Regions from separate parts of the Homo sapiens genome. Here regions 2, 3, 4 and 5 are each linked to region 1. Evidence: fine-mapped expression QTL. A gene starts in region 1. Each other region holds a variant in brackets. All regions are shown on one strand. Distances are from middle to middle. Region 1 holds the start of RUNX2 (RUNX family transcription factor 2). Region 2 overlaps RUNX2 (RUNX family transcription factor 2). Region 3 overlaps RUNX2 (RUNX family transcription factor 2). Region 4 overlaps RUNX2 (RUNX family transcription factor 2). Region 5 has its middle 19 kb from the start of RUNX2-AS1.

Evidence for each region.
Region 2: its variant is fine-mapped to the expression of RUNX2 in blood mononuclear cells (TOPMed, PIP above 0.99). The same link has a PIP of 0.9 or more in whole blood.
Region 3: its variant is fine-mapped to the expression of RUNX2 in whole blood (INTERVAL, PIP above 0.99).
Region 4: its variant is fine-mapped to the expression of RUNX2 in putamen (GTEx, PIP 0.99).
Region 5: its variant is fine-mapped to the expression of RUNX2 in neutrophils (CEDAR, PIP 0.91).

Annotation. Positions count from the first base shown.
Region 1 is chr6:45,326,186-45,331,294 of GRCh38, reverse strand. RUNX2 (RUNX family transcription factor 2) reads right to left here and starts at 2,965. Exons shown (of 9, transcript NM_001024630.4): 1 at 2,835-2,965; 2 at 2,511-2,634. The coding sequence starts at 2,568. All of the region lies in intron 2 of SUPT3H (SPT3 homolog, SAGA and STAGA complex component), which reads left to right. RefSeq lists an enhancer at 3,196-3,236, a promoter at 2,643-3,283 and a cis regulatory region at 4,241-4,247.
Region 2 is chr6:45,549,576-45,554,684 of GRCh38, reverse strand. RUNX2 (RUNX family transcription factor 2) reads right to left here. Exons shown (of 9, transcript NM_001024630.4): 9 at 3,603-5,109. Among named protein-coding and RNA genes, the nearest start is that of RUNX2-AS1, 25 kb to the left of the region's middle. The variant C/T (reference allele first, on the strand shown) is at 2,417.
Region 3 is chr6:45,528,515-45,533,623 of GRCh38, reverse strand. All of the region lies in intron 7 of RUNX2 (RUNX family transcription factor 2), which reads right to left. Among named protein-coding and RNA genes, the nearest start is that of RUNX2-AS1, 46 kb to the left of the region's middle. The variant G/T (reference allele first, on the strand shown) is at 2,121.
Region 4 is chr6:45,454,526-45,459,634 of GRCh38, reverse strand. All of the region lies in intron 5 of RUNX2 (RUNX family transcription factor 2), which reads right to left. Among named protein-coding and RNA genes, the nearest start is that of SUPT3H, 79 kb to the right of the region's middle. The variant T/C (reference allele first, on the strand shown) is at 2,432.
Region 5 is chr6:45,555,674-45,560,782 of GRCh38, reverse strand. No RefSeq gene overlaps it. Among named protein-coding and RNA genes, the nearest start is that of RUNX2-AS1, 19 kb to the left of the region's middle. The variant C/T (reference allele first, on the strand shown) is at 2,970.

The DNA.
Region 1 (5,109 bases):
ATACTCTATGAGTCACATCTGTGATTTTCAGCAAGCTATATTTATGATAAATGATGGACAGATTTTGAGTAGTACAGATTGAAAATTTTTGATTAACTCAAAGTGAAGTATGCTGAGAGATCAAGGACACAGACATACTCTTTCTCTAGCATGTGCGCGCGCGCGCGCACACACACACACACACACACACCACTCATTGTATTTGAGGTGAAGCAGTTGTTAATGTGTGCTTTGTACCTCACCTAGGAAAATCCTAAACTTTCTTTTTAACTATTTTACAAAATTGGGGCACATACTTAAGACATTTCATTAGGTGGTGGTGATAATCATTATATAAAAATCTAAAGCCTGAAGTGAGGTTTTAGGCTTTGCATAGATTATAGAATGGGGAAATGTTTGCAATGTGATAACATATACATGATGTCCACTACTCACCTGTAATTAGTCTGAGGTAGTGGGTTGATGTTAAGTTCTCTATTCAGGCTTCAAGATACTGTTTGGGGGCTGGCGGGGAGGGAAGGTGCAGCCCACTTTTCAAAAGAGGAAGAACTGGTTGTAATGTTGGAAAAAAAAAAGGTTCACTACCATGCCTTGCTTAGAATCCTGTCAAGTTTTGGAAATTTTGAATAGTTATTAAGAATGTTACAGAAGTATAAGATCCCTGTTATGATAGAATAAGAAGCAGTTTAATATATTCTTTGTGAGAATTTTAACATATTCTTCATGATAACTTTACTTCTAATACTGAAGAATTTTTTGAAACTTGTGTTGTTCCTGATCTGGTTTTTAAAATGTGTTTAAAATAAATAGTTAAACAGAGTGATAACGTGAAAGAGTAACTTAACTGCCTCTGTTATCCCTCCCTGATATCTCTGTTATCCCTGTTTCAAGTTATCCCTCTGTGTAACAGTAGTTTTAACTATTCTTTTTCCTTTTATCTCTTGGGTAGTAGTAACAAAACTTTCGATGTATAAGCTGTAATTATGCTATGTGTTGTAATGTAGTCTAGCTGTGTTTATGTCCTGCTTCCTTAATATAGAAGTTTTTAGAGTAATACTTGGTACCCATCATTAAAATTTTAAATTAATCTGTGATTATTATATTGTATATATTATAACTGAGGGGGCCCACTTACAGCTATTGAGGGAGTCACTAAAGCAATTTTACATTTTTTTTTGTAAAATACAAAGTACATTTCCTCACCCTGTAAGAGAAACCATTTTTTCTCCCTTCAGGTTTAATTATTTCTGTTTGACCTAAACTGAGACTGATCCTCTAGTAGTATCCAGTTAAAATGTGTGAAGTAGGAGGAGTAAAGGAAACTCCAGTCATTAGTTGTAAGTTAAAAGCAGAGTTAATATAGATGTACACAGCAAGAAGGTTTATTTTAATGGATATAAGAAAAATTTTTGAAAACTTGCCTTGTAGTTGGAACATGTTGGAGATCATAAAGAGAATCTTGTAAGTGTGTTTAGATATTTTGCTATAATAACACATCAGCTGATGAATGTTAAAGTCATTTACATATCTGTATCAACAGTAACTTGAAATTAAATATTAAGGGACAAGATTATGCCTACTTCTTTTAAAGTCCAGCATGGTTTAATAGTTGTGGCTTTTAAAAATCATACAGGGTATCCTTATGGAGCTTTATTTTTCATGAGACTAAACAGCAGTTATTCATTTTGGTAGGTCCAAGAATGTGATTAAAAGAATCTTAGACGTTTCAGTGTTTCAGTGTGTTTATAACAAGGTCTATGGATAACAGTGTGTAGATGTAAAATTAAAATTACATAGAAAAATGCAGTTGCATGTAAGTTTTAAAATACTTCCATGAACTTTTTAATATCCTGGGCAACTATAAAGATCTTTTAAAAATGGCTGTGATGTGCTTATCATAATTTTATTTCAGCTGAATGTATACTTATATAAAGTTGTTTAGAAACAAACTTATTTAGATAGGATACAGTTTGAATTTATAAGTAGATTTCTTTTAGTTGAGCTGGTTAAAATGTTAACTGTACTACAGGTTTATTTCTGTGTTATACATGGTAGACCATAATGTTGAGATAATTCTGTGGTCTGTTATTTTGTAAAATTGCTTCCTTTTTGAAGTTTGCTCAAATATTGGGAGCTGCCGGAGTCAATAATTTATAATGCTTTGATTAATTTAGGATCTGACTTTTCTTCTGGTGAGGGTTAATGAGAGTATTAAACTGTTTCTTTTACTGTTTTCATATCCTCACCTCTATAACTCTAGAAAACATTTTGATCAATGTGAGATAATTTAATTTTGTATATTTCAAGTCATTACTTTGAAAATTAGATACATTACAGATACCAAATGCAAATATATACAGAAATTTCATTTTTCAATTCTTAATGCAACAAGATAGCATAATTAGGATCTTTAATATGCTATTTGGAAAAGCTAGCAGTTTATCAAAGAATCATACCTTTATGTTTAACAGGTTCATATCTTACAGGATTTTAAAAATGGTAACACTTACCCCAAAAGAAGTTTTGCTGACATGGTGTCACTGTGCTGAAGAGGCTGTTTGATGCCATAGTCCCTCCTTTTTTTTTCAGATAGAACTTGTACCCTCTGTTGTAAATACTGCTTGCAGCCTTAAACTGAAAATACAAACCATACCCAAACCTTGTTTTAGTTTTACAGTATGCCTGGAGTACATAGACTTTATATTTATTTTTTTCTGTCAAGAAATTATGTAGCTGGTAACATGTGAAAAGCAAAGAAACAAAACAAAAAGAGAATGAGCAAATATTTGAAGGACCTACTATTACTGCATAGACTGTGGTTAGAGAGCACTCACTGACTCTGTTGGTCTCGGTGGCTGGTAGTGACCTGCGGAGATTAACCATTTAAAAACCAGAGACTTCTTGCTGTCCTCCTGGAGAAAGTTTGCACCGCACTTGTGGTTCTGTGGTTGTTTGTGAGGCGAATGAAGCATTCACACAATCCAAAAAAGCAAAAGCTTTAAAACTCCTTTTTTTTGCAAGCACTATTACTGGAGAGGCAGAATCATGTGGTTTGTGACCTCACAGTACTCTTAAGTAAAGTGGGACTGCCTACCACTGTGGCTTTTCCCCCTTGCTCTTTCTCTCTCTCTCTTTCTCTCACAAAAGGCTTGTGGTAAGGCCTTTCCTGGCATCCAGAAGGATATAGCTTTTTAATTTTTGTGACTCATGAGGATTTGGATAGAATACAAATGCTGAAGGAGCCCAAACTCCTGTAAGGTTAAGCATTTGTAGAGCAGAGCTCTGCAGTTAAGGGCTTTCCTTTCTACTCCCCGCTCAACCTCTGCCTTTTTGCCTCCTCTTTTTAGTTCATTATTGTGTCTGTGGAAAAATGAACAAAATTGGCTCAAGAGTCTGTGTGAAATTCTGAACAACAGTGATGATATACAATAATTCACATCTTTGGACTGTATCACATTCTGGGGTCTGCTTCATATTTGCTGGGTGGCTGGATTCCTTCTGTTTTCCTTTTTCTTGTCTTCTTAAACTTGTGAATCTGTAACTCATTGTAAAAAAAAAAAAAGTTTACCTTAAGGTCTGGTTGCAAACTGCTTGCTAGGCTTGACTATAATTGGCTGTCATGAAAGTGTTAGTCTGGGCATTCTTTTACAAATTTTAAATCACGTCTGTCTAGTTTATTATCAATCTATTAGATGGCGGCCTTTACAATAAAGATTAAATGTAATGTTTCATGTATACCATTATCTCATGCCTAGTTTGAAGATCTTAAAAAAATGAATGACAGGGATTGTAATATAGTTTATTGGATGAATCTTAGTTTTCTTTATGATTGTAATATTTTTTGTCTTTCATTGAAGTGTATTCAGTTTATATAGTTCTTTAAGTAGTTTAGACATTAATAGAGTTTCTGATAGCAGATCTTCTATAAAGTAAAATGCTTATGTTATAATGTAGATTGTTCAGTATTTGATTCTATGAGCTTAGAATAGAGTGGGTTAACAGAAGCTATGTATTTTTTTGTTTCTAATGGAAGCTTTGAAATAAATTACAAAATGCTGTGTGTAGTAAGGAATAATGCCCACAGACAGAGTATGTTAGTCGTCTCGATTTGCTAATTCTGATTCAGAAGAAAATTGGAAACATCTTTGGGAAACTATCTCCTTTTTTGCCCCTTTGGACAAGTATGTATAGAACTCATTTTCTTATTAGGATGATTATATATCATAGGCAGTGAATTTTATATTTATGAATAGAGCTTCCTGTTTTCATCAGTTGGGAGCGATGGAGTATTTTTCAACCAAAATTATAAAGGCGAACAGACCAATTTTCTAGGCATTTTTTTGCCATTTATCCATGCCACTCTAAATCTGCATGTTAGACTTCTTCCTAGTGTGACAGTAACTAGGAGTGGCATAAAGTAAATGGGGTGGGCGGAGACAGTGAATTACAAAAGATTATTTGGAATGTGCAGGGAGGTAAGGGCTAGGGAGACAGGAGGGTGTTAGAACTAAAATATCCCTGTGTTCTTCCTAGTGCTATTCATTATCTGCTTTTGGTTCATATTAGATCACAATAACTGTACAAATATGTTCATAAGTTTCTTTACAGAAAATTTGATTTTCCCAAAATACACTGGTAGGGTATGGGAATGATTCTAGTCCTTTATTTTTCAAATGTCCAGAACCTTTTCAGAATAAACTTTTAGTGATAAAAAACCAGAAATACATTTTGGTGTTTTATTTTAACTATGGATTTATCATGCCTTATTGTATGTGTAAACAGATTTTACATTGAAAGGTAAAAGCGTTCATTTAACATGCAGTTATTCATGTGAAGGAGAGAAAAATTATTTTTTCTCTTTTATAAATAAGTCGTATCCATATTATCTGTATCTCTAATTAGTATCCAAAGTAAACAAAAGGAGGGTTTTGTCCTTATAGCTTGTGGGATTTCCAAACATGGTTTCATGTGTACCTATAATAGCAGAATCACTTAATTGAAAATATGTAGGTAGCTGCTGTAGTATGATCAGCAAATGGTTTTCTTCTTTTCAAATAAGCTTATAGTTTCTACATTAGCATTCACTGAAACATCTTACAAACCCAACAT
Region 2 (5,109 bases), 220 kb before region 1:
GAGCATATCTGAATAGCAGGGCTGGATTGAGTCACAAACTTTTGAATAATAGCTTTACAAAAATTACTAAAAACTCCTTAAATGTTAGCTTCTCCCTGCTCCCTTAATTGACATATCAAGGAGCATCCAGTGTCCCTTGTCCCAGTAACCTATTTGAAGACAAGTAATTGTTTCTTTATCACTTGTGGGATAAAGGCAGTACTTTTTTTTTTTTTTGAAGAATTTGCAGAAATAAAAAACTGAGGCCAAGAAACACTGTGTCTCCTGAGTACATGTGCAGGGGTGGTGAGCCCCATCTTTCTCTGAGTGGGTGGCTGTTCAGGTACCCTTTCCAAACTTCACCCTCCTCCTTCCCTCCCTTCAGGCACACACATACCTGTGTGTGCATACACATATACACACATACACACATACACCACACCACACACAGACACATACACATGCACCACACATATACACACACATGCACATACATACACATGCACACACACCACACACATATACACACACATACACATGCACACACACACCACACATACACACCACACACACATACACACACCACACACACACATACACATGCACACACACACCACACACATACACACCACACACACACCACACACATATACACACATACACACACCACACATGCACACATACACACATAGACACACACCACACACCCGTATACACATATACACACACATATACATATACGTGCACATACACACCACACACATACACACATGCACCACACACATAAATACACATACACACATGCACCACAGACACATATACACACACATACATACACCCCACACACACACACACATACACCACACACACGCCCACACACACACATCCCTGGTGTATTACCCTTTGCGTCTTCACTGGATCCTTTTCCTTGGTAAGTTTTGATTCATAACTTTTTAAAATTTCCTTTCCAAGGCCTCCTGATTGAGTAGTTACCGCTGAGAAGCCCCTAAGAAGACACAAAGAGGCTTCTCAGGGTCCACAGCAATGGTGGTGAGGAAGGAAAGACTCCCTTGCCTTTGCTCAGAACCCAGAGTTTAAATCAAGAGTATCAGCTCTCCACATACTGGTTCCTACCTGGCCTTTCTTAGCACCTTTTCCGGGCCAGAGGAGAGAGACAATGGAAGAGCCGAGAAGGGTTGGGAGCAATTTGGAGTATACCTGGGGTGCATAGGCCTAGGGTGTAAGCCTGATTCCCAGTACCAATACCTGGACAGCTCAGGTGTTATGAACTCTTGCATGAAGATGTCCTTTCCAGCCTCACAGAAACTGACTAAGGAGTGAATGCATGAGAATTTGCTTGGGATTTTCACAGGTGAGCTGGCCCACACTCACTACAACTGGAGCAGTCAGTTGAGTTGTCCTCCACTTCCCCAGAAGAACTTAGAGATGGTGACACTGTTTCATAAGCATCCTTTTTAGATACCTCCAAATTGTTGCTTCCTAGGACTGATCTCTAAAATAATTTTCGAATAGTTAGGACAGAGAGGCCAACTGATAGCATTTCTTATTGTTAACCTGGTAATCTAGGTACAGGCAAGCCAGTACCTCCATTTCTGCAGTGGCTCTTGGCTAGGTCATTATTGTTTACCAACCATTTCCAGAGAGAATGAAAAATTAACTAATAAAGAGCTGTAGGACCTGCTCTCACTGACTGCCAATGAGGGCTTCCCTGACATCCTCCCTTGCCTTTCATACTGTTTTCAAGTCCCATAAATATAAACATGCGGCTCTTCCACTGCGTCTGTAGATAATAACTTCAGGGGCCTTCCTGTTTACATGGCAATACCCATTTCCCAGCCAAATAAACTCTATGACAGAGACCTGAGGTGTTTATTGGGCCAGTCCCGGCTGGGATTGAGTTAACAGGAAACACCCACTCTTGCAGAAATGCCTGATGATTAAATATTTGGGGGATAGGGGACACCAGGGGTCAAAAACACTGCAGAAATTGCTTTCTTCTTCCGCCTGCCGTTTCAGTGAGAAACAGGCCATGATAAATATGGCCAACCAATCCAGGCTTAACAAAGCCCCACAGCTGGGCTGTTCACTGGCTGCACAGCCCATGTTGCAGAGAGGAGTGAAGAGGTGCAGACGAAAAAGCCAACAGCAGCCCTCATGATACATCCAAATCAAGTGAAGGGATGGAAAAGGTTGAGGTGTAGCCATCACTGGGAAGTCCCTCAGCCTCTGCCTGGCTACTCTGATTTAATAAGCAATGTATTCTCATATCAGTTCTGTCAATAAAGCCTCTAGCTAAGTGGTTCTCAATCGGTGGTGATCTTGCCACCCAGGGACCATTTGGCAACATCTGGAGACATTTTTGATTGTCCTAACTAGGGAGGTGCTACTAACTTTTAGTGGGTAGAGGCTAGGAATG[C/T]TGCTAAACATCCTACAATACACAGGAGAGCATCCCTGACACACACACACAAAAAGAATTACCCAGTCTGAAATGTCAATAGTGCCAAGATCTAGCCCAATGCCTTTTCATAAACCAAGAAACTGAGACACAGAGGAATAAAGGGATTTGCCCTAGACCATCCTGATAGAGAAAACTGGAGACAGAAAGCAAGCCACTGTGACCACCTCCCTTGTGAATGCCCTTTAAAGTCACACAGATGTTTGATTTTTTTTTAAATAAATAAATCTACATCCTCAGAGTTGCAGACAAGTTCCCTGGCTTAAGCTCACCCAAGTGCTTTCAGGACATTTCCTATTCTTGGAATTTAACTATTTCCAAGATTTCTTAGAAAATAGTGCCAAAGGGTTAAGAATGAGCAGATCTTCAAGGTCTCTAACTCTCCCTGTGATGTGGGTCAGCTTGGCCACTGGCTGACCTTCTCTGCACCATGTTTTCCTGGGTCCCTATTTTAGAATTGTGGTGAGCCCAAGCATTCAGAAAGCATAGGACACAGAGAAAGCAACCTTTCTACCCCAGGTCTTCAACCTTATCACAAGGGGGGGGACTTACCAAAAATAAACAATGGCCACGGGAAAAAAAAATCTCCAAACTATAGTTATGTTCACTAGGAGAATTCTTCTGAGGCTATAGCCCTCCAGGCCAAGGTCCGTTTTTACTCATCCTTGGGCTTTGGTTGACTTTATTTTTAAGAACCCAAAAGAGATGTGGAAAGGAAAACAGACTAGCCTATATCTGGGCTGCCTGAGATCTTCTGTTGATAGCCAGAGGTTCACTTGCGGGGCCCTGTTCATGTTCTCAGAGATTAGAATCATGAAGCCATCGAGACTGCATCTATACGCCTGATAGGTCCCCCAGTTGGAATAAATGGCCTTACTCAAGGATGAGGTGAGCACTCCTTCCTTCAGACACAAGCTAGTAAGGAAGTGAGTTCACTGCTAGATTCTTTGCCCACCCCTCGCTAGGAACAGGACAAAACAAGAAGACACCGTTTACCAAGATTTTTTTTCTTCTCCCCAGTAATATAGCATCTCTTCTCTTAACTAGCCCTGGCAAGTCCTAAGACCAAACAGTGCCCAGGTGTAAGCAGGAGTAGACATCAGACTAGGGAGAAACCGTGAACAAGAAAAGACCCAAGGTACACACATAACAAAACCAAAAAAGCCATTTTATTGAAAATTAAATTCAAACTTCAAATTAATATTACAATCATGAGAAAAATGCCAAATAATTCAATTTACAGTTGCAACATACAATACAAATAGTCCCTTTGAAGTTAAGAGTAAACTCATCCACAATCATGACCTGTGGCACAAAGCGGAATTTTTACAATATGTGCATGGAAAGCAATTCTTGGGCAATAGCAATTGGAAAAAATAAAAATGAAAGCTTGTATTTACACAAAATGCTACAAATATTTTTGTTCCACAGAAACCTAAGAATGGTAAAGCATATCCAAAAGAAATGGAATTTTATTCAGAATACCTAAGAAATTATTGTAAGTTATGGTTTTGGCTGATATATTTCAAAGTACTGCATTAAAAAGCAAACAGTTATTTGTAAACATGAAGTAAACACACATCTAAAAAATTCTCACATAGAAAATATTTTTAAATGCATTCGTTTTCTAAAAACAACAAATTCAAGGTTTGGAAGAAGTGTCTTTTATTATTGTTCTTTCAAATACCATAGGTATAATTATTACTTTTGCTAATGCTTCGTGTTTCCATGTATTAACCTGGATTCTGGGCCAGTCCCTTTCCTCGGAATTGAGGGAATCCTTAAAGCTGTACACACATCTCCTCCCTTCTGAATTTATCACAGATGGTCCCTAATGGTGTGGACTTCTCTGCTCATTTTGAAAGGGCTCTGGCAAGTGAGAGGCAGTGAGACCGTCTAAAGAGCAAACGATAGTTAATCTGTTGAGTTTCTCAGTTCTGGGCTGAATGTTATTCCACTAATCTAAAACCAAAGCTGTGGTACCTGTTCTGGAACTCTGATATGGGTTAAAATTTGTGAGACAACTGAAATGGATAAAAATGTGGCTGCATTGAAAAGACTGCAAATTCCAGCAATGTTTGTGCTACAAAGAGAACCACGCTATTTTAATTCCCAGGAACTAGTACATGGTTCCACAGTAGTAGTAAGACTTTGCTTTGGTCTTGAAATCACAAATCAAACACATGACCCAGTGCAAATTAAGGGTTCAGTGAAAAAAAAAAAAAAAGAAAGAAAGAAAAACAAAATTTTAATCCCTAGACCAAAAAAGGGCAGAATTTGTTCTAAGAAATGTGAATTACCCCCATTGGGGTGGTTGGAGTGAGGGTGGAGGGAAGAAGTGCTTGAATTTTTCCCAAGGAAAAAAAGCTTCTAAAGTGTTTCTGGGTTGCTGCCTGCAGCCACTATAGTAACATTTCAACACAAAAGCATCCCTAAAGTCACTCGGTATGTGTACTGTAAACTTAAAAAAGCCCTTTTAACATTAAAAAATAATGTACAAATATAGTACCTTTTTAATTAAATAGGATGCAGCTGGCACTGGCGGTAGCATTTTTATGTCAATTAATTAAAATTGAAATGTGTAACCAGACACTGGCTTTTTTAAGTGCTGCTGAAACAAACACACATATTTTACACTTACAAATAAATGGACA
Region 3 (5,109 bases), 200 kb before region 1:
ATCCAAATGTAGTGTTGTAGTAACTCGTTCCTCTGACAGTCTCAGCGTTTTTCCACTCAAGCCCTGCACACAGAATTAACTCAAAACTTCTGCAAGAAAAACGTCCCTTTTAGAGTTTGATTTGGCATCAGTTTCAAAGAGCTGTTTGTATATTTTAGAATATGTAGAATTTTCCTTTGATTGAAAACTCTCTTTTTAACAATGGACAAGAGATGATTTCTCTTCTGAGTGATTTAAACAAAAACAAACACATCTTAGTTACATAGAGCCTTGTTCTCAAAGTGGTCTTTCTGAAAGAAATCAAACCCTACAGATTGTTAAGCATTTGGCAAAAGCCTTCAAACAGCCAAAGCCAAATAGCGAAATTTTCCTTGTTGCAGGAGATAAACAAATACTAGAGCAAATTTTTTAAAAAATAGAACCTCCTTTCACTTTCTACTCTGTTCGATAACATTCCCCTCTCAACACACACACACACACACACACACCCCTTCAGAGGGGTTTCATCTTCAATGTTTATTCCTGGTGCTATAGTAATAAACTCGCCACAAATGGACATTTTCAACATCTGTTTGTGGCTGTTCCCAGACGTCTTGTATTTCTCTGGGACATGAAGCCCTCTGTCTCCCAAGTGTAAACAGACACACCTAATTATGTATTAAGGTGTCTGAGAGGAGCTACTTGTTTTGATGACCGTGAAAAAAAAAAAAAAAAAAAAGAGCCCGGTCTGCTTAGCTAGCTGTGGGACGTGGGACAAACACACAGTAGTCCAGTAGTAGCTCCTCAAACAGTGGAAGTTCTCTGCCTGCCAAGGACAAAATCCAAGTCCTATTTTTCTCAGCCTGAGAATCATGTCCACTGAGTCCACTCCAGATGTGGACCAAAACAGTCAGTGACTGGTCAGGAGAGACAGTGCTGCCACAGATGCAGGGCCACATCTATTTAATCTTTTCATAAGGACTTAATTTTCGGGTGAAAAGAGGAAAGGTGCAGAGGAGGAAGAGGTCATTGGTGGTTCATTTTTTTTCTTCTTCTTCAGGTCACAATGGCCATGGATAGCAATTTTAATACAATGTCAGTAGCCTATGAGAAGAGTAGCAGGATAAAATAATTCTAGAGTGTTGGACTAGCAACTGGAGATGTGGGTTCTGGCCACAGTGCTGTCCCTGCCTCACAGGGTGATCACGGTGGAGTCCCTTTCCCTCCCTGACCCACACATTCCTTGTCAGTAAAAAGAGGGGCGGGGATGAAATCATCTCTGTGGGTTTCCCTGCTCTAAAATTCTGATCCTGCTACATATTGGACAAGTCTGAGAATTCCAAAAATACCTTCAAAAATTCTACTAGAAATACTGTTCCTGCAAAGAATGGTCCCCATTCATTAAAAAGCAGTACTAGTTTTCAAAATGAGGTAATAAAGCTATACATTCAATGTGCAAAAAAAAAAAAAAAAAAAAAAAAATCTAGGTTTTCTATGTACAAAATGTCAATTCAAAAATTTAGGATCTTTTCTAAAAACTAAAAAAATGTAATTGTTAACAACAGTTCCCAACACAGGCCAAAAGAAAATGGGAACACTACTAACTTTTTAAGAAAGTCTTTCATCCTTAAATTTAGCAGTAAAGGAGGTTAAAACTAACACTTCAGGCTCCCATATTCGATGGGAGATACCACGTGAGCTATTTCTCTTTCTTTTCTGTTCTAGATTATTTAAGCAAATTGTTTGATCTGAATTATCCAAAGTTAAATAAATGATTTTTTGTATCAACCTTTCCAGCTCTTGCAAGGTAGAATATATCGTGCAAAATTTAAGTAGCTTTAAATTTCCTCGCCCCACATATAAAACCATATATTTTGAGTTTTGTTTTTTTTTTAGACAGAATCTCACCCTGTTGCCAGACTGGAGTGCAGTGGCGCCATCTCGGCTCACCACAGCCTCTGTCTCCTGGGTTCAAGCGATTCTCCGGCCTCAGCCTCCCAAGTAGCTGGGACTACAGGTGCGCACCACCACGCCTGGCTAATTTTTGTATTTTTAGTAGAGATGCGGTTTCACCATGTTGGCCAGGATGGTCTCGATCTCTTGACCTTGTGATCTGCCCACCTCGGCCTCCCAAAGTGCTG[G/T]GATTACAGGTGTGAGCCACCGTGCCTGGCCTATTTTGAGGTTTTAAGATTTCATTAATGTGTACATTTTTAATTTCTAGAATAAAATTTATGTTTACAAAATTGGGAGGTAGATTTTTCCACTATTATTTCTTGTTAGGGATTTGGTCCATTTTACTTTATTTTGGGTTCTCTGATCTGCATCAAACCATGAATTTTGGCTACTTAGTAAGGATTAATGGTGTTATCCAGGTTTGGGCTGGAAAGATCAGTGATAACAAATATTCCTCTTAGGATGATAGCCAACAGGCCTTTGTAGCAAAGTCCGATTCTGATATGGAGACTCCTACAGCAACGCAGAGTAGGGAAAAGCATATTATGTGGAGCTAAAAGACCTGGAATTGAGTTTTCACTCTCTATCCCTTTCACTTGATGACCCTGAACAAATCTCTAAATGTCTCTGAGCCCTCATTTCCTGCTGGCAAACTACTGAGTATAGTAGTATTGATACTTCAATGCGTTGTAATGATTAAATGAAATAATGTCTATGAAAGTGCTTTCTATAGATGTAAAGCACTATCTAAGTATTATTAATATTAAGTCTTGCTATGCATTTATTTTTACTCTCACCTTTGGAGTTAGTTGCTAAAATTCTTCCCATCTTCCCCTGCACTTAATTTGTCTGAGGTTCTAACATGATGTTCTTTATCTGTGAGCTTTAAGTACTTTCCGCCATCAGAAAAGAGCTGTTACAGAGGACCCAATAGTCCTGCTCCTTTTTAATTCCCTCACTCTCTGGAGTTCCTGAAGCAGAGCAGAAGAGTTCAAGGTGCCCTCCTAAGATGCCTCCTCCTTCCTGGGGGAGTCCTCAGTTTGTCTGTACATATTCTGTTGCACATGCCCGAGTTTCCACTTCTCTTGGATGACCAGCAGCATCCTCTGGAGACAGCAGCTTGATAAGCTGCCAGAGTCCACTGTCATCTAACTGCACTGGACCATGGACCTCTTCATATGCAATAGGATACTGTGGGGGAATGCAATAAGCCTAACTCACAGATTGTACTTGTACCAATCTCTTTGTTCTTCCCGTTTCCCTCAGTGTTAACCTGCTTGTTACACTTGTTGGAACTTACTTGCCACATTTTTAGATAACTGAAGGGATTTACCTCCAAATCGCCTTCTATATAACCTAAAGTGGTACTGCTTATTTGATTTTAATGAACTTTTACAAAGATTGTTTTCAAACTTCTAACTAGACATTCTATAATTTGCAGTTTGAGATTTAACCTTTTTATTAAAATGGTGGTAGGAAGACCCCTGGGAGGGGTTCACTTTGGAGAAATAGTTTTTCTCTCTTAGGTACCAGGGAATGTGGTAAAGTGCAGGAGGAAGGCAACTTAGCCATCTGCAGAAGCTGTGGCTTTGCAAGTCCAAAGCTGACACCTCAAATACTAGCTTGCAAAGTCTGCAAATGGGCTGAAAGATAACCACATCTCCAGTTCCCTAGTTTTAATCTATCTCCTAGTTACCTATCTCCTAACCCACCTGTGCGGTGATTTTCACTATTATACCACGGTGTTGTTGGAGTGAAAAAGATCAGTACCAATGCCTTAAGACTGGAGGGGGAGGGCATTAGTATAAGCAAGTCCAGCCACTCATCTGAAGAGGAGGGGAATTCATTACACACATGTGTATTGTCAGGATTCAGACCTCTTGGCTCATGGGGAGAAAGCACGCCTCTTTTCAATAAACTACCCTACCAATTTTATTCCTTTTTAAAGTGACTGTTTTTTTCCAGGGGCTGTTATCTGTTATCTGCTGCTTCTGACTCTAGTGAGAAAATTCACATTACATTTTTTCACCTCCATTCTCTTTTACTATACCCTTCTAAATGAAAGGGAATGCAATAAGCCTAACTCACAGATTGTACTTGTACCAATCTCTTTGTTCTTCCCGTTTCCCTCAATGGGCTGTCAAACCTAGTTTTTAACCAGGGAGAAAGGTTAAAAACTAGGTTTGACAGCCAAAGAAACAGCCAACCCATCATCCGAAGCTCCAATCTATGAAGTTTTTGGAGCTCTGAGAATTATTCTGGATTCCCCATGCTGACACCCTTTGAACTGTATCTTCTATGGAGTCCTTGAGCTTCCAAAACTCAAAATAAATCCATCAAATACATTTTGAGTAGGTTTGGTCACTGGGAAATGTGCTCTCCAGGTCCTGATTTTACTACTCTCCTTTCCTTTAAAACAAACTAACAAATGGCTGTAATAGTTTTCAGTACACACACCTCTGAACTTCAGGATTCCAGAAAGAACAGAAAGCTGTGTCCATGGAGAAATGGAACTTCATTACATTTTAAACAGGAAATATAAGAAAAAGTGTTCATATCTGCATAAGATCTTGAAGCTAACTTCCAGAGCCCCAAATTTAGAGTTTCATGAGGAGGAATCTCCTTTTAGGGCATGGTTGAAGGATCTGAGAATGGAGTGATAGCTTACTACAACTGTGATGCCAACAGGGTTACCTGTTTAAAGCTTTCTCCTATAAGCTTGGCTTGTGGTTATGAGATTCTGCTTAGAACATGTTCCTCATCCCTTATCAATTCAAGTTCCTTGCTATTTAAGATAAGCCCCAATTTCTCAGTCCTCTGAAGAAGCTGTTTGGGTACTGACTCCACAGGGAGGACAAGTGCTGGTTTCTCACCTGGACTGACTTTTCTTGACTGCTGGATATTAGCTCGCCAGCCTGAAGGAACTGATAGCCCCTTGCCTAAGTGTTTCTTCACTTCAGAGCTGTTGCCACGCACTGCCCAGTGTGATCATCTAATGATTGCCTGCAAAGCCAGCCTGGTCACACCTGCATGCATGATGCTTTCCATTGAAGTGCATCTTTTTTTTTTTTGAGACAGAGTCTCCCTCTGTCACCCAGGCTGGAGTGCAGTGGCACAAGCTAGGCTCACTGCAACCTCTGCCTCCTGGATTCACACAATTCTCCTGCCTCAGCCTCC
Region 4 (5,109 bases), 130 kb before region 1:
TATTCCTAACACATAGAAGAATGTCTGTCATATGGCAGGGCTCAATAAACACTTGTTGAAAGAATGAACATGTGATAGCCGAATTGAATACACAGTGCCATCTAATTGTTTATTAATTATAGCACTATCTCCAGGACCATATTTTAATTCTTCCAAAGTAAAACTTTGTGCCTTATATTCCAAACTTGTGTGTAGCTGGCATACTTGTAGGCACACAGCAGGTGCTCAGTAAATACTGTGGCTGCCTGGTTGATGTGAGCAACGTAGAGAAAAGCAGGATCAGAATTTCAAGTATATTCAGCAATTCAAGTATATTCAGTTATTTTTAGGTAATTCTATGATTTTTACAAAGAAAATTAACTGTTATATCTCTGCTCTGTGGGAATACGGTTTTTGATACTGAAAATGGAAGATCATGATGTATGTGACCATAAGAATGTGTACAAATAACTATAAACATGTCAAGCTCTGGGGTTCTTTATGGCAAGAACCCAAGCTAAAGTAAATTCAACTGAAAGAAGAGTAAGGGTTGAGACTAAAGAGAGAATATGGGATGTCAAGAAATCCAGACAGAAATAAGGGCTGCTTAATGTCACATACACACAGGGAAAAGGAAATTAATCAGGAGAGGGGAAGGAAGAAGGCAAGTGGCTCAAAGCTTCAGGTTACTGTCAGGTTTTAGAAACAGAGAATACAGCTACGCATTTCTGTTGGCAAGTTTTTTCCAAGAGGACAGATTGTGGACCTTGAGGTTTTGCATCCATAACATTTGCCCTCTGAAACCAGAGACATTAACAAAAGAGCACCTCAGGAATTTGAAGGAGTCAAGAGGTTCTGTATGTTTCCAGATCATACTTAGAGCCACTTTTTCCCTCCTGCCACAGATTATTACATATGAGTTTTATGTAGAATGAATATATGAACCTTGAAAGGTCCATTCAGCTAACTGGAAGATTCCATTCGCAGTTTATTTTTCATATATTTTTACTGAAATGTCTTATACCAGAGAGGAAAAATAATCAAAATTTTATTGTTGATTTAATTTATTTACTTGGCAAAAAGGATTAGAAACTGAAGGAGATCATAATGTATTTGCCAGTTAACACATTGGTGACACGGAATAAATGTATAGTTTATCAAAATTGTCACAGCTGATTCCTTAGTAACCCAATATTTCTATCTGATTTCTCAATGTTACAAAAGTGAAACACAGACTCTAGGTAGTTTCATCAAGAATGTAAGATGCTTAACAAATACTCTTCATTGCCTAAAAGTTGGCACTGTTTTTGTTTTTAATTTCCTACCCCAAGCCGGGCACGGTGGCTCATGCCTGTAATCCCAGCACTTTGGGAGGCTGAGGTGGGTGGATCACCTGAGGTCGGGAGTTTGAGACCAGCCTGACCAACATGGGGAAACCCCGTCCCTACTAAAAATACAAAAATTAGCCAGGCATGGTGGCAGGCACCTGTAATCCCAGCTACTCAGGAGGCTGAGGCAGGAGAATCTCTTGAACCCAGGAGGCGGAGGCTGCAGTGAGCTGAGATCGCGCCATTGCACTCCAGCCTCCAGGCTAGGCAACAAGAGTGAAACTCTGTCAAAAAAAAAAAAAAAATCCTATCCCAGAATTTATCATTGCATTTGATTAGATCCCATATAGACTGTCAGAGAGCCTTCATTGCCTGTTAAACCTTCATATGCCTGTGAGCTTCCTTGTCATATTAACCAGACAAATGCATTTTAGAGCCACCTCTGCACACTTTTCACAAAGCTTTTAACCACAATGGCTGACTGGGCCTCTATGTTTTTCCACTCAGTCCCAGGCTCTCATCAGCCAAGCTGCCATTGCCCTGGCTTATTTCTTCTACTTTGTTCTATGGGCCAGCCTCCCCAACCTAGTCTCCTACTTTTCTCTACTTCACTTAGCCTCCTTGATGTCAAAAGTCACACTAGAAAGGCTGCTTTAGTTTTTACAAGCGTTGAATAAAAAATAATAATAATTCAAATTGCATTTTCAGGTAGACTTTTAGTAGCTTAAGGCAAAGCATGTGCCAAGAAGAATGCTTCTTCTTTTCCAGATATACTTATGAACTGAAAATGTTATACTTTTCAGGATTTTTAGAGTCTTCAAATCTACATCCTCTCATCTTTCATGTTTCTAGAATTCCAAAAATAGGAAAAAGCATTGTCTGACATGGGATCTTCCTTCCACCTTCCCTTCTCCAGTCACCCTATCTCCTATGGAGATGGTCCAGGAGGAAAAAAGAACTACCTTACCTGCTGATTCAGCCATCCCTGCCCTGACTTGCAGCCTTCTTCTGTTGGGAAAGGTTAAGCATTACCTTTCCCTTCCATCCTTAGTAATGAACAAGCTGCTACACTAAAAAGGCAATGTTTTCTTTTTTTCTACATATCTCTTTTTCTCCATTAATTC[T/C]GCTTTTCTTTGATCCTCCACCAGAGCAATTCAGAACAAAAACTACAACTATGTAACCCCCAAAATTGATTTGAATTTTTTTTTCTTCACATGTATCTGATTCCTACTTACTTTTGCCCCCTCCTCCCAAAAAAATGCATATAAAAATTGGCTAGCTTCTAGTTAGAGTAATCTGAAATTATTTTGGATGTGGTAAAATAGTGACATCTTACACATTTTTCTTCAAATTCACAGCAGGAACCTTTTTTCAACTTGAATTTGATTTGAATCATACTAACCAATTTCAAATATGAAATGTTCAACACAGATGTGTGATCCTGGGCAAGTTCTCTAATTTCTCCAGCCTTCTTTATCACTTGAAAAAGGGCATCTTCTCTGTCTGCTTTACAGAGTTGTTGTGAAGTCATCAATGTTATTACAAACTTTGTATGCTATGCAAATACAGAATATATTATTTTCTGAAAACCCAGCCCATAGGGCAGGTCTGAGCATCCTTTGCTAAGGTATACATAAGCCACTCCAAAAGATGACATAAAGAGATGGAGCCTTGAGGAAGTCTGAAGAGGAAACCCAAGAGACCCTCAAAGCATGCTTAGAGTGCCCAACATAGCATATTCTTATTCGATTAGCATACCAAACATCTTGTGAGCACCTATAAAACAGAACAGAGATAAAAGGAAAAAAGAGACAAGAAGAAAAGCAAGGAGAAGAATGTACACTTCATATGAGTTGTCTTCTGAGGCAGGCAACCATATCAGAAAATAATGCAGTGGGCTGTAATGTTTTTAAAGGAATAGATTTTATACCAATTTTTGTAAATCAATTTTCAAAATGTTCATTTTTAATCGAACAGGATTTACCATTTTGCGATTAAGACTCAGGGTATAGGTCAGTCAATTCCTTTGAATAATTAAAAAATAAAATCAGTTTAGAAAATGCAAAAATGTATAAAATAAAAAGTATATGTGAATATATATTCATACATACAAATACATTTAGGAAAAAGTAGTAAAAGGAATTATGTCAAAATATTAACTGAGATTATCTTTGGTGTTGAGTTTCAAATGACTTTTTACCTTTTTTTCAATGCTTTCTGAATTTTCTGAAATGTTTACAACAGATCTTCCTGTATACTAATTAAATTAAGTAAATGTTATTTCAAATGTAAAAAGAAATAATTGGCAGCACTGAGCATCATATATATGCTTTTGTTACTAGTCCTAACAATGTCGTATTTTCACCAAAACAGAATTTTTTCCACATAATCTAAATTATCAAAAACTAAAAGTATGATTACCTCTCTACAATGGCAGGGCATTTATCTACAATGCTATTAAAGACTAACAGGATAAACAAATCCTGTAAGGTACATGAGAATATTCATTTCTTGTGACCAATAATAATTGCAGTTTCTCTAAGAAGAAAAGATGGCTTAGTAAAGATAAGCAAAGCCCAATGAACTTAAAGGCGTATTGCTGATTGTCACGGGAGTCTCTCTTTACCTTGCTCCTTCACCTTCCACCCTAGTCCATCACACTTCACACTGTGCTAAAGATAAATAAAAGGACTACAAATTAAGCCCTTTATGGACCTTTACGGGTGCTAATCTCGGGTTTATACTCAATTCTGCTGGAGGCCCTTTCAAGTTAGACTCTCAAAGTTATTTCAGCAGCACTTAGCATTCTCAAAAGCCCTGGACAGAGCAGCCATGGTGCAAATGTTTGCTCAATTAACGTAGAAATAAACAATATGGATACGTTATTAAAGCTGATTTTCTTTCCTAAAATTACCTTCTTTTAATTACCAAGCTCACCAAGAACAAAAGCATCTAAATATCAACATTAGAATTTTACTGGAATATAATTATTTGTCAATTAAAAATGAAATAAAACTTAAAAAAGAAGAATTTCCCTGAATTTCTACAGTTACTTTGTAAGTTGTATAGAGGTCTTGGGATTTAAGATGCTATTGTACAAATAATATTTTCTAACGCAGTTGTTTTAAATAATTTCTAAACCACGAGCTTTCCAACAGCCTGGCCACATTTATGTGGAGGAGAACGGTGAGACTATGTTTTCTTTTCTTTTTTTTCTTCCCAAAGTCTCACTGTCGCCCAGGCTGGAGTGCAATGGCACGATCTCGGCTCACTGCAGCCTCCACCTCCCAGGTTCAAGCGATTCTCCTGCCTCAACCTCCTAAGTAGTTGGGACTACAGTCGCCTGCCACCATGCCCAGCAAATTTTTATATTTTTAGTAGAGACGGGGTTTCACTATGTTGGCAAGGCTGGTCTCGAACTCCTGACCTCAAGTGATCCACCTGCCTCAGCCTCCCAAAGTACTGGGATTACAGGCATGAGCCAGCATGCCCGGCCTGAGACTGTGTTTTCCTGAAGTGAAAACTATCAAAATCCATTCTAAGAACTGACCAAATAGCACCAGGAATAGAAGTAGGAATAGAACTCAGCTATGGTTCAGCTGGAGGACCTCATTGCTGTAACAAAAGTACATACACACACACATACATAGATAAATACCTACATACATACATAATCTTCTGATAGACTTTTTGGAGCAATTTGTCCCAATTTAGAAAGGAATGAAAGGAGACATTTATAAATTAGCCGGAAATGCCACCTATTCCTTCAAACACAAGGATTTCTCCCTTCCCCATAAAAGTT
Region 5 (5,109 bases), 230 kb before region 1:
CACCTTCCTCTGCCCTGTAAATGACTTGACACTTATGTCTGAGAATCACTTGGCACAATAATGGCTGTGTCTATCATTAAACAGGGGTCAGATGAACTATGTTATAAGTCTTATAACACTATACTTAATACCTGTGTGCTCTATCATCACCCCATCAGAATGGTTTTCCCCTTCTACTTTTTAAATTGAAGGGTGATATGGTTTGGCTGTGTCTCCACCCAAATCTCATTTTGAATTCCCACGTGTTGTGGGAGGGATCCGGTGGAAGGTAATTGAATCATAGGGGAAAATCTTTCCCATGCTGTTCTCATGATAGTGAATAAGTCTCATGAGATCTGATGGTTTTAAAAAGAGGAGTTCCCCTGCACAAGCTCTCTCTTTGCCTGCCACCAACCATGTAAGATATGATTTGCTCCTCCTTGCCTTCCACCATGATTGTGAGGCCTCCCCAGCCACGTGGAACTGTGAGTCCAATTAGACCTCTTTCTTTTGTAGATTGCCCAGTCTTGGGTATGTCTTTGTCAGCAGTGTGAAAATGGACTAATACAAAGGGATATTGGTTATAGGTAACTTAGATAGCAAGCAGATAAAAGGTACAATTGAGATGACAAGCCCTTTTTCAAGAATAGCTGTTATGCTTTGATTTGTTTAGGTGGCTAGGACATCATGTTAATGAAGTCAAGACTATGGCCCCATCTCTAGAGGCCAAAGCTTGAAACAGCAAATAGAAAGACCTTTCCAAGCCACTACCCTTAGCATTGATGGCAAGGGTCTGGGTGAGAAAATCCCTCTTGTCCACTAAACGGAAATCAACTTGAAGCATGTTGCCAACAGATATATCAGCTTTCTCCAGGAAGAAATGGCACTGATGCTCCTAGACTGGATTTCTCATCCTCTAAGTCAGGCCTGGTATGCTAACTTCATCTATGTTTTAAATAAAGTAACATATAACAGGTCTTTAATTAATAAGGTTAGCTGGAGCATGGTATGGGATCAGCATGTTGGAAATTAATTTATATAAGAAAGTTTTAATAAATCAGTTTGCCTAAATTTATAACAAATGAAAATAGGTTCATGAAAACTAGGACATTAAAAAAGTAGTTAATGAAAATATAATGCAGAAGGTGCTACTATTATGAAGGAAGGAAATATCTCTTACGGTGAGTGAGTATAGAAACTGCTTGAAATAGATGTCCTGACCCTTGACTTCCAATCATCTGTCTATGGGGTGATCCTTCAAAAGTGATTTGACCTCTCTGGGATTCCATTTCCCCATCCTCTACAAAATGACCATTTTGCCAGTTCTGCAGTAAACAATGGACCCCATTCTCTTTCTTAATGTTAGACAGACTCTAGTCTTTTAAAACTCCCCATAATTTCTCCATTCCAAAAGCCATTCCAAATCTATAGGTAAGAGCTCCATGGTCCTTCAGCAGACCATCTGGCTGGCAATATATTATTGTCCCAAGTTAAAGAGAAGGTCAAGAGAGGTTAAGTGGCTTGTTCAAGGTCATGCATCTAGTTAGTAGGGGTTAAGGATCTGGAACCCAGAACTTTTTGCCACTTTCTGATGTCCCCCTTTCAATACACTGCTCAACCCCTTCAGGGAGAGTTGGCTTCATGGCTGCTACAACAGGGTGGAGAAAATGGAAGAGTAGATTTTCCCTCTTTGACTGTATGAAAATCACCCACTTTTAGAATACCAAACCACCCATATATGTGGTGGGAATGAAAGTCTTGTGTGACTAAATATAGATGCCAAGTACCTTACAAATATTTGAGTGTTTGCTTTAGGAAATGAGAAATGGAAAATGAAACTGGCTATAAACAGAAATCAAAACTGTCTAAATTCTCTCTATAAACTAATTACTACTTTTAATATCTGTTTTTTGCAATCTCAAGAATTCATGAATTTGCTTAAAATAAAGAATGGCATGACAAAAACCTCTTTTACTGAAATGGATTAAGTTGAACAGACATGCTTTCCAATACGCTTCTTAATGACGGCAAGCCTTCCAACATATTGGTCTGCCTATAGTAGCTGTTCAATAAATATTTTCAAAGAGAAGAAAGAAAAGAAGGGAGAGAGTGTGAGAGGGAGAGAGATAATTTCTATTATCTGGACTTTCAGTAAAATATAATATTTTTTTCCATATAGATTTAAGAAAATAGTCTGCAAGATACTTTAAGATACTTGGAGAGAAGCCTACCTATTCATTCAAAGTGATTTAAATCATTTAGGGCAAGAAACGGTCGTGCCCCATCCCTGGGCTCCTCCAGGCTTCTGCACACCAACACAAAGCCTTGCCCAGATCAGGGGTTCCACTTCAGATGTGAGGGAACTGGGTAGTGCCCCTTTGTCAGATTGCAAGGAGGACCCCAGAGCCATTCATAGAAAGGTAAGGGTTGAAGTTGACAGGAATTTCTTGGCTCGGGTCTCTTTCTAGTTAGATGAAGCCAATGCTGCCAAATTAAGTGCAATAATAACATTTTCAGTGACATTGTTCACACAAAACACAACATACCTACATGGAAAACCTTGGAAGAGACTACAGATTGAGGATTGGGATGGGGGTAAGGTCAACATTCTTGTTCTGAAGGTGTTGATGTATTCCATTCATGGTTTACGTGATACGATATCTCCGGGTTCCCTAGGGAAGAAGCCCATAGCAAGCCAATTGCCAAACTTAACCTTAATGAAATGGACTAATGGCTGTTGTAACAGCCTGAACCTTAATGTTCAGTAGAAAAATAGTTTATAAAATATATAGGAAAAAAACCTCTGTCAAAGAGCAACATTTTTAAAAATGTTAAAATAGCATTTTTTAAAAATCTTCCACTTCTGGCTTCAGCTCTATTGTGATTCCAACTAATTGAACATTTTATTTATGCTTTTAAAAACAATCTTAATTATTATCAACAATAATAAAACGTACCATCTAGTTTACATCTATTATGTGCCACACACT[C/T]TGCTGGGCATTTTTAGATCTCATTAATTCATTTACTTCTCATAACCTCCATTATACAGATGATACAGAGATTGTGCCCAAAGTTTGAGCTTAGGAACATAGTCTCTGGTATCAAGCAGATCTAGACTTGAGTCTTAATAGCTGTATAACCTTGGACAAGTCTGAACCTCAGTTTTCCTATCAGTAAAATGGGGATAAACACAGTACTAACTTCTTCATAAGTTGCTGGGAAGATTAAGATAAGGCACGTGAAACATTAAGAAAAGTGCCAGGTACATATGTGATCATGCTACTGGTACCAAATCTGAATTTTCCTCAAAAAGACATTAAAACAATGGGCTTCAGTGCCATCCTAAGTAGGGAAGGAGGAAAATCATCTTTGGCTCCCATTCCTTTCCCCCCAGGATGTTCATACTAGTGAGATCAAGGCCAAGTGAACTTCAAGGACAGCTAGGGAGGAAAAAATAGAAAGGATAATGTGCACTTTCTGCATTTCAGGGGAGGATGTGGCAATTGGAGAGAGAAAGTATGAGGGTTTAGGAGGATGATATGAACAGGAAAGGTAATGAAAGGGGTCTTTGGGGAACTTATTTTTGGGGCGAGCTTCTCAACCTCCTCCTAACATCCCCTTCTTCTCTCGCTCACTTTCCTGCAGGCCTTGGAAGCAAAGCCCCCAGGAATGACTGGAAGACAACACTCTGCAGACCCCTTCCACAGGGTACCCCTGCTCTCCAGGAAGGGCCTTCAGGGCAGCATTTGGAGGTGGCATGAGCTAGCAGCGGCGTGCAGCCTGGTCACTGTCTGATCTGGTCAGCCCAGCCGCACAGAACACCACACAGGCTCTGGCAGCTCCCTGGGAAAGAAGAAAGCAGCATCTTGCATGTGTGGCTTATTCTGAAAGGAATAGTATCTGAGGGATTTGATGGACTCTGACAGGGGGAAGAAGGTAGTGAAAAAGATGGAACAAAGATGCCATTTAAAAATACTGGCTCGTGTTCAGGATTTCGCTATTTTTTACTGCAAGGAACAAGTAAAAAAAAAAATCCTCCTATTGATGAGTATTTTTCTACAGTCATTAAAAGTCAAAGGACTCAGGGCTTCCGACTTTCCCTCTTGGGAAACCTGTAAGCTCGTCTTCTGGACAGCTTAGAAAAGGGCTGGATGGCGAAGGCGAGAGGCTTAAAGGCCCCCAGCAAGCAGCTCCGCCGAGGAACGGGTGCAGGGGACACACTGTGTTTTCAGTTCAGATTCTGTGATCTTTCTGCCAAACAGGGGTTTACAAAGCAAAAACCTCCAGAGAATTCTCATACTTTCTGGCTTATTCTCCTGGTGTTCGTCTTAACAGGAATCAGCTGTTTGCCTTCTCACTTATACAGCATGTTGCTGAGGCGAATTTAGCATCTGGCCTGGCTATTATTAAAAACAAGAACATCCTGCTCTGTTGGGAGAACAGCACCACTGGCAATAAAAGGACAGAGATCATTTGCATTCAGGATTCCAGAGATGTGTTTCAGTTCAATATCTGCGCTCCCTCCTTCCACCCCTGCTTTCATTTTAAGATTTCCTGATGCATCCATCACTTGCAGCGTGGTCAACTTTTTTTCTGAAACAGGCACACACAGGCAGAGCATATTTTTTCCTTTCACTGGGAGGCAGGAATGACTGGAGTTGTTCAAACACCGGTCCGTTCCTGCAATTCCTATGATAAAGTTGAACTACCAGAGGAATTTTTTTTTTTTTTTTTACAACTGCGGAAATGAAAAAGTAAACAAGACTGGGACTGCATTGGTATTTAGGCTCCAGCTTTTTGTTGTTGTTTTTGTCTTTCCCTTTTTTTAAGCCATTGGGCTAGGAGCCTGAAGGGACCATATAATATGAAAAACGCTGAGAGGTTTTATTAGCCAATAAAAAAAAAAACTGAGTTCCTATTAACCACTTAACTCCTTGCTGAAGTTCAAACTTGCTTTCTCCTTGGATCCTTCTCTCCCTCTCATGCCCACGAGGAATGACGGTTGGTTCACCAATCTTTCCCTGCACAACCTGAGCTCACAGTTTGTGCTCCAGAAGGTGTGGTTGAGAATCGTATTCAATAATAATCTCTGTATTTCTCATCTGTGAAGCCATAAATAAGATTTCTGTA